2 linked regions of the Homo sapiens genome follow. The protein of the gene in region 2 purifies or fractionates together with the protein of the main gene of each other region. This does not show direct contact. Each region holds a gene or a part of one and is shown on either strand. Other genes may lie near its edges.

Region 1 (3,576 bases), on a different chromosome or scaffold from region 2:
TTCCTGGATGTGCATTTGGCTTATTTACATGGATTTGGGTGCCCTCTAAGGACACCATCTTCTCTCCCCTCCAAGAGGGTCAGGCCACAGGACATCCATGTTCTTGGCCTCCCATGGGAGAGGGTCTCTCGCCAGAGGAAGGGAAAGCCAAGTGGCCACAGAGTTCCAGCCTGTCCCTGTGACAGCCCCTGCCTCTGGCCAGACATCCACCCACCCTTGCTAAGTCAGCCTGCTCTGGGGCTACTAGGCCCAGTCCTTGCTGTCTGTCGGAGACAGACCATGAAGTGCAGTGTGTGGAGGGCTGGGACATAGCATACCGAATTACCCCAGGGAGCTTGGAAAACATCTCTTCCCACTCTCTGTTAGGCCCACGGCTTCCTCTACTGGAGGAGACGGCATGTGAGGATGGAACTCGGTCATTCCTCTGTCACCACCGATGTGAACAGTCTGGAATCCTGCACACAGGAGACTGACGATCCCTGAGCAACCTTTAGTAGCTCCTACCATTGGGCATTTTCTTGGTACAGATCACAAATAAGAGACATCATAGAAAATGTTATTCTTTTATTATTTCAAGGAGGTAATACATAGCCCAATATGGCAAAGCAAAAGGGAATTAGAGGCAGCAAATGGCCAGGTTTTTCTAAGCGCCTCATGCTGCATCTCTGAGCTCCTGTCTGCCCGCAGCCCACAGCTGCTTACATGAAGGCCAGGTCAGTAGACAGATGGCCCAACTTGATACTCCACTGACTGAGAAAGGGCTCAATGTGCAGCACAGCAGAGGCACTGCCAGGACCCAGCACGCTGGGCGGCACCCCACGCTGCCACCACCAGCTACAGAGGCTAGTGCCTTAGTAGCAGCCAGTGTGTCTAGCACTTGATTTTATTCCTGTGAGCCTAGAGTGGGCAGGACGTGAATAAATCCTGAGTCATAAGTTAAGGTGAAAGACTTAGTAGTGTTAATACTCTTGGTGAGAAAAGACAACACAGTCTTGGAGGAGAGTGGGCTTGGAGTCTGGTGGAAGAAAGATAGAAACCCCCAGAAGGGCCTCGGCCTGCAGGCACTGCCTTGAGGCCATCAGAGGGGGTTTTCACGGTACATGATAGGGAGGAGTGAGGCAGGTGGGCACTGGAGGGCTGTTTCCTCTGGCACAGTTGAACTAGAGGGTCACTTTCCACTCATAATTGGTTTCCTAGGTCTAAGTCACCACACCTGGGGCTGAAGCAAGTCTTGCCTGTGCACCAAGCGTGGCCTTGGACCCTGGAGAGATGCAAGGCTCAGTTCTCCAGTGTTGAAGTGGAAGGACTCCCAACTGAAGGAGATCTTTCTCTCCCCACCTCCAGCTCTTTTCCCTTACAAATGACCAGGGTGCAAGTCGAGAGGCAGAGGCACCTCCTGGTGCAACTCCACCACAGTCTTACAGAGAACTCATCTTGGTGGGACCCAAAGCCCAGCCTTGGCATGAAGCAGACTTATTCCACCCATCGGAGGGCACCCAGTCTGGTGACTGAATGGTGGCGTGCAAGTGGGAGTCAGCAGTGGCTCTGGATGCCGTAATACTCAGATGCCATTCATCTCTGTGTGATCGTCCTGGCTGGAGAGCTGGTGAGGAGGGACTGCTTCCTCCTGGCATGCACTGTTCACCAACCACACCACGTGGGCTGATAGATTTTTGGTTTGACAGGTGTGGAAAGAATTTTTAAAACCAGCCACTGTGTTCTCCAAACCCAGAGCCATTGGTTTTGTTTGACAAGAAAGTACCAAGAGAACCACAGCTCCACTGAGGCTAAGGCTTGTGTAGCACAGAATGCAGTATGTATTGAAACGTATAAACCTTGTCTGACTGGGGAGATGGGTGAGCAAAGAGCTGCCGGGACCCAGGTCCTCTAGTCGGTTGCAGGCTCTGCCGATGTCTCATCCTTAAGCTCCTCAAAACCTGGGACTGGCTTCTGTAGAAAGTATGTAGTGGCCTGGATCACCTTGTCTGGTCCAATGTTGTACACTGGGTGAGTGGGCTGCTGCAAAGAGAAGAAAAGGTGCCAGTTAATCACCCCGGTGGTCCTTGAAAACATAACACATCCTTTGCTCCATGAAAGGCACTTCTAAGAATTTAGTATAAGGAATCAGAGATACACACAAAGCCCAAAGGTTCAAAAATGGTGTATTTGCTAAAACTATCTAGTACATGGGACACAGGTTAATATACAGCCATTATAAACACGCATTTAAATATTTAACGATACAGGCAAATACTTACAACATATTATGTGAGAAAACAGTATGTACAATACTATCTCAAACTGTTTTTTTTTTTTTTTTTTTTTTTTTGAGAGAGTCTTGCTCTGTTGCCCAGGCTGGAGTGCATTGACACGATCTTAGCTCACTGCAACCTCTGCCTCCTGTGTTCAAGCAATTCTCCTGCCTCAGCCTCCTGAGTAGCTGGGATTACAGGTGTGAGCCACCACGCCTGGGTAATTTTTGTATTTTTTTTTTTTTTTTTTGAGACGGAGTCTCTCGCTCTGTCGCCCAGGCTGGAGTGCAGTGGCGGGATCTCGGCTCACTGCAAGCTCCGCCTCCCGGGTTCACGCCATTCTCCTGCCTCAGCCTCCCAAGTAGCTGGGACTACAGGCGCCCGCCACTACGCCCGGCTAATTTTTTGTATTTTTAGTAGAGACGGGGTTTCACCGTTTTAGCCGGGATGGTCTCGATCTCCTGACCTCGTGATCCGCCCGCCTCGGCCTCCCAAAGTGCTGGGATTATTTTTGTATTTTTAGTAGAGACAGGGTTTCACCATGTTGGTCCGGCTGGTCTCGAACTCCTGACCTCAGGTGATCCACCCGCCTCGGCCTCCCAAAGTGCTGGGGTTACAGGTGTGAGCCACCACACCTGGTCTCAAACTTTTTAAAAAGTGTATTTGTACCTGTGATGTATATAAATAGCAAAAATTGTACCCATACCAAAATATTAATAGTGATATGATTGTTTTTCATTTTCTTTTTTATATTTTATGTATCCCAATTATTAAAACAATAAACATGTATTTACATTTATAATCAAGAAAAAGGGGGCCGGACGCGGTGGCTCATGCCTGTAATCCCAGCATTTTGGGAGGCCGAGGTGGATGGATCACCCGAGGTCAGGAGTTCAAGACCAGCCTGGCCAAGATGGTGAAACCCCGTCTCTACAAAAATACAAAAATTAGCCGAGCATGATGGTGAGTGTCTGTAATCCCAGCTAGTTGGGAGGCTGAAGCAGGAGAATTGCTTGAACCCGGGAGGCGGAGGTTGCAGTGAGCCAAGATTGTGCCACTGCACTCTAACCTGGGCAACAGCGAGACTCTGTCTCAAAAAAAAAAAAAAAAGAAAAAAGGACCACAACCCTAATATGTAGTAAGGCTGTCAGATCATATTTAAATATATAAACAAAATTTAAATATGAAATTTAAATTAAATAGATGTTATTCTAGTACATCACAGAAACCCAAAAGAAACTTTAGATTTGACACGGCATAATCCTAGGCCAATATTCAGGATTCTCCCACTGTGGGATAATGAAGAAGGGGACACAACTGCAGG
Region 2 (3,820 bases):
TAATCTCCCAGATGATGATATTAGGACATGGGGCCTTTAGGAGGTGATTAGGTACTGTTATAAAACAGATCCCAGATAGATAGCTAGTCCCTTCCACCATGTGAGGACACAGCTAGAAGGCAACATCTAGAAAGTAGGCCCTTGCCAGACATCAAGGTGCCTTGATCTTGGACTTCCCAGCCTCTAGAACTCTGACTGTATTAGTCTGTTCTCCCATTGTATAAACAAATACCTGAGACTGGGTAATTCACAAAGAAAAGAGGTTTAATTGGCTCACCATTCTGCAGGCTGTACAAAAAGCATGATGCTGATATCTGCTTGGCCTCTGAGGAGGCCTCAGGAAACTTACAATCATGGCGGAAGGTGAAGGGAAGCAGGTGTCTTACATGGCAGAAGCAGGAACTCTTAAGAGAGAGAGTGGGAAGGTACTACACACAACCAGATCTTGTGAGAACTCACTCACTATCACGAGAGCAGGACCAAGAGGATGGTACTAAACCATTCAGGCGAACCCACCCCCATGATCCAATCACCTCCCATCAGGGCCTGCCCCCAACATTGGGAATTACAATTGAACATGACATTTGGGTGAGGACACAGATCTAAACCATATCAGTGAGAAATGAATTTCTGTTACATAAAAGCTATTCGGTTTATTGTATTTTGTTATAGCAGCCCAAATGGATTAGGACACTGAATGCCCAGCCTCCAGAACTATGAGAAAATACATTTCTGTTATTTAAGTAACCCATTCTGTGGTATTTTGTTATGGCATCCTAGGCTGACCACAATAAACAACACACTCACTAATTCATCAGGCTTCTGCTGAAGGCCTACTATGGGCAAAGCACTGAGTTTAGCACTGTGGGCAGACACAAAAGCAAGTGGGAATACAACAGCTCACAATATGGTCAGGGAGAATGACAACACAAATATATCTGTCATAGAGCAGAATGCAAATATTTTGGTATAATGCTTCTATAACTCTTGTTTCAACAATGCAAATTTGTTCCAATGTGATTGACATATTAAGGAACAATCTGAGCATAATGTGAATGTTGTGTTTGCTTATCTGTAAGAAAAACTAGATGAACATAGAAAGGTTGTGCCTAGCTGAACCGGGCCACACGGAAATACACAAAATTCACATACCTCAGACATCAGTCAGCTCTCTCGGCCCACGGTGTGTTATTAGCCACACTCATCCACATTTGGAGTTAAAACTCTCCGTCTGATTTCACATGACTGTCCTCCTACCATTTCGCAATAACATACAAATGACCACACCTTCTGAGACCACCTCTTAAGCAAACTTTAGGTCATTTTCAAACTCAACTGCCATATGTGTGGTAAGATGTATACATTTCTTAACCACTTAATGTTAAAGCTGTGCTACCATTTATAATAGGTTTTTATTTTTGCTTTTATCTGACAAATTATTGAGTGTTGTTCTTCTAAACCACTTTTTCTCGATAAGCCCTATAGTTTTGAATTGCATGATTGTGTATACTGCAGTGATTTTTAGAAACATGTATGAGTAGAATTGACTATATTTAAACATTTCAATAAGGAACTAGATTTCAGGTAACTAAGGCCTGGGTAATGAATGTTTATGGTCAGGATCACAGAAAATCACATGCTTATTGGATAAACTTCAAACAGGGCATATGGATCTGGCTAATATATCAACGACAACCTCTAGTGGTAATGTATACTAATTGCAGGTAAAATACAGAAAAATGTGATGTAGTAAAAATGGATTTTTAAATGTTATCGAATGAATGAAGCTATCACACAGGCCAACTCACATATATTCCCTCACCTTTAGGCAGCTTTTTATGGCCTCCAGTTTCCTGGCCTGTTTACTAAAATAATTTTTTTTTTTTTTTTTTTTTGAGACAGAGTCTCACTCTGTCACCCAGGCTGGAGTGTAGTGGCACAATCTTGGCTCACTGCAAGCTCTGCCTCCCAGGTTCATGCCATTCTCCCACCTCAGCCTCCGGAGTAGCTGGGACCACAGGCGCCCACCACCACGCCTGGCAAATTTTTTGTTTTTGTATTTTTTGTAGAGACGGGGTTTCACCATGTTAGCCAGGATGGTCTTGATCTCCTGACCTCGTGATCCACCCGCCTCAGCCTCCCAAAGTACTGGGATTACAGGCGTGAGCCACCATGCCCAGCCAAGAATGTTTTCTAGAGTCAAACAGCCTCATAAAGGGAGCTCCACTGACCTGTCATTGAGTTTTCTGAGGTGCACAGTTGCTCTCTCAGCTTCTCCACGTCATCAGGATGCACCTGTTCATACAGTGTGCTCCCAAACCACTCTGACTGGGGCTGGTTCAGAACAGGGGTGACGGAGTCAGACACATAAATCACTCGCCCTGTCTCAGCAGCCACCACAAACAGAAATCCATCAGCTGCTTCAAGGATGAGATGCTTCAGTTCCTATAAAGAAAAGATTATGATTGGCACAATACACTGACAGACCCAGGATGATTCAACTTTCTTATTGGGAAAGCAGCCTTCAATTTCCTTTATCTGCATATTTATTCTGGTACACAAATAGTTTGGGAAATGAGAACTTTGTTTCTGGAAAATAAGCTAGAAAAATGCACAAAGCTTGCACCATCCCTACGATACAGCTACTGTAAACACGGTTAGCCCATCTTCATTAGTCCTTTGTTGGGGAGAGAAAATTTCCAGCCTAGGGGGATGGGAGAGCAATGAGTGATCACCAGAAGGTACTGGGTTGCCAGAGGCGTGAACAGCTTTGCCACATATTGAAACTGTAGTCATGTCATTGGAGCAGAAGGGCCCAACACATAGTGCTTGGCACAAAAGGTGCTAGATAGAAGGAAGGGAAGGGGAAGGGGAAGGTGAGAAGGGAGAACGAAAGAGACCACGTGTCTCCCCACCCACAGCTTGCCGTACTGAAAGTACCCTCTTGTTCCTTTTCTCTTTCCATATTTCTGAGCTGAATGCTGGCACTGGCTATAAGAGTATCCCCTTACATTTGCATTTCTGTCAGATTTCCAGAACTGACAATAATCACCATCATCTCAAAAGACTCTCAGAGTAACTCTGGGAGGCAGCAGGGAATACAGCATTATCCATATCACTTTACAGTGAGAAGAGGATAGGAGCATCAACCTTCAGCTCACATTGATTCATTGGGGTCATGACTGTCATTGAAGGCAGGGAGGAAACTGGGATCAAGGAAGGGGCAGCAGGAAGCCTTGATATTATCCTCAGAAGGACGTGGATGGGGCAAAATTAACTTTGTTAAAACAAGATGTCTTTTCTTTGCAGCGCCTGAAGGCAGCTCAAGTATAGTTGCCCATACTATTCTCACATCAAGCTAAGGAGCCCTTTGCCACTGAATGAAATGGGCTTTGTGCCTGCAGGAGCCAGGCACTAAGTCTTCCCTAGACACTGTAATCCATGGCCACCCTTCCAACCACTTCAAGTACTGTTCAGGCTCCAGAGGACAAAGGTATCCTTCTAGGTCAGCAGCTAGCAAACATCTTTTGGCTGGCAATCTTTTGTTTGAATGTAATCTTATGTGAAAACCCCACTGTAAAGCACATGGACAGCCAGCAGAGTGAAGGCAAAAGGTGGAGAGTCTGGCGCCCCAAATCCCAGTAACTGAGCAGGGTACAAGGACCCAGAGACTAGGGAACATTGATATGCTGATGAGCAGAACCCAGGGAGCTTTGTAAATGTGTCTAAGCCCTTGGCTGGGGAGGAATTCTAACATCCTCTGCCTGGGAAACCAGGGCAGAAGCAGTTGGTACAAGCATTTTTTAAGGATAAGTTTATT

The links.
Region 1: the proteins of ARNT2 (region 2) and FNTB purify together in Homo sapiens (affinity purification with mass spectrometry, with the first as the bait; one large-scale study listed by BioGRID). This does not show direct contact.

Annotation. Positions count from the first base shown.
Region 1 is NC_000014.9:65,059,624-65,063,199, reverse strand, and holds the end of FNTB (protein farnesyltransferase subunit beta), read right to left. Parts: intron 2,020-3,576; coding exon 1,888-2,019; 3' UTR 550-1,887; downstream 1-549. Other genes in the region: CHURC1-FNTB protein, read right to left, coding at 1,888-2,019. UniProt on the Homo sapiens protein: Essential subunit of the farnesyltransferase complex. Catalyzes the transfer of a farnesyl moiety from farnesyl diphosphate to a cysteine at the fourth position from the C-terminus of several proteins having the C-terminal sequence Cys-aliphatic-aliphatic-X.
Region 2 is NC_000015.10:80,473,635-80,477,454, reverse strand, and holds part of ARNT2 (aryl hydrocarbon receptor nuclear translocator 2), read right to left. Parts: intron 2,446-3,820; coding exon 2,232-2,445; intron 1-2,231. UniProt on the Homo sapiens protein: Transcription factor that plays a role in the development of the hypothalamo-pituitary axis, postnatal brain growth, and visual and renal function. Specifically recognizes the xenobiotic response element (XRE).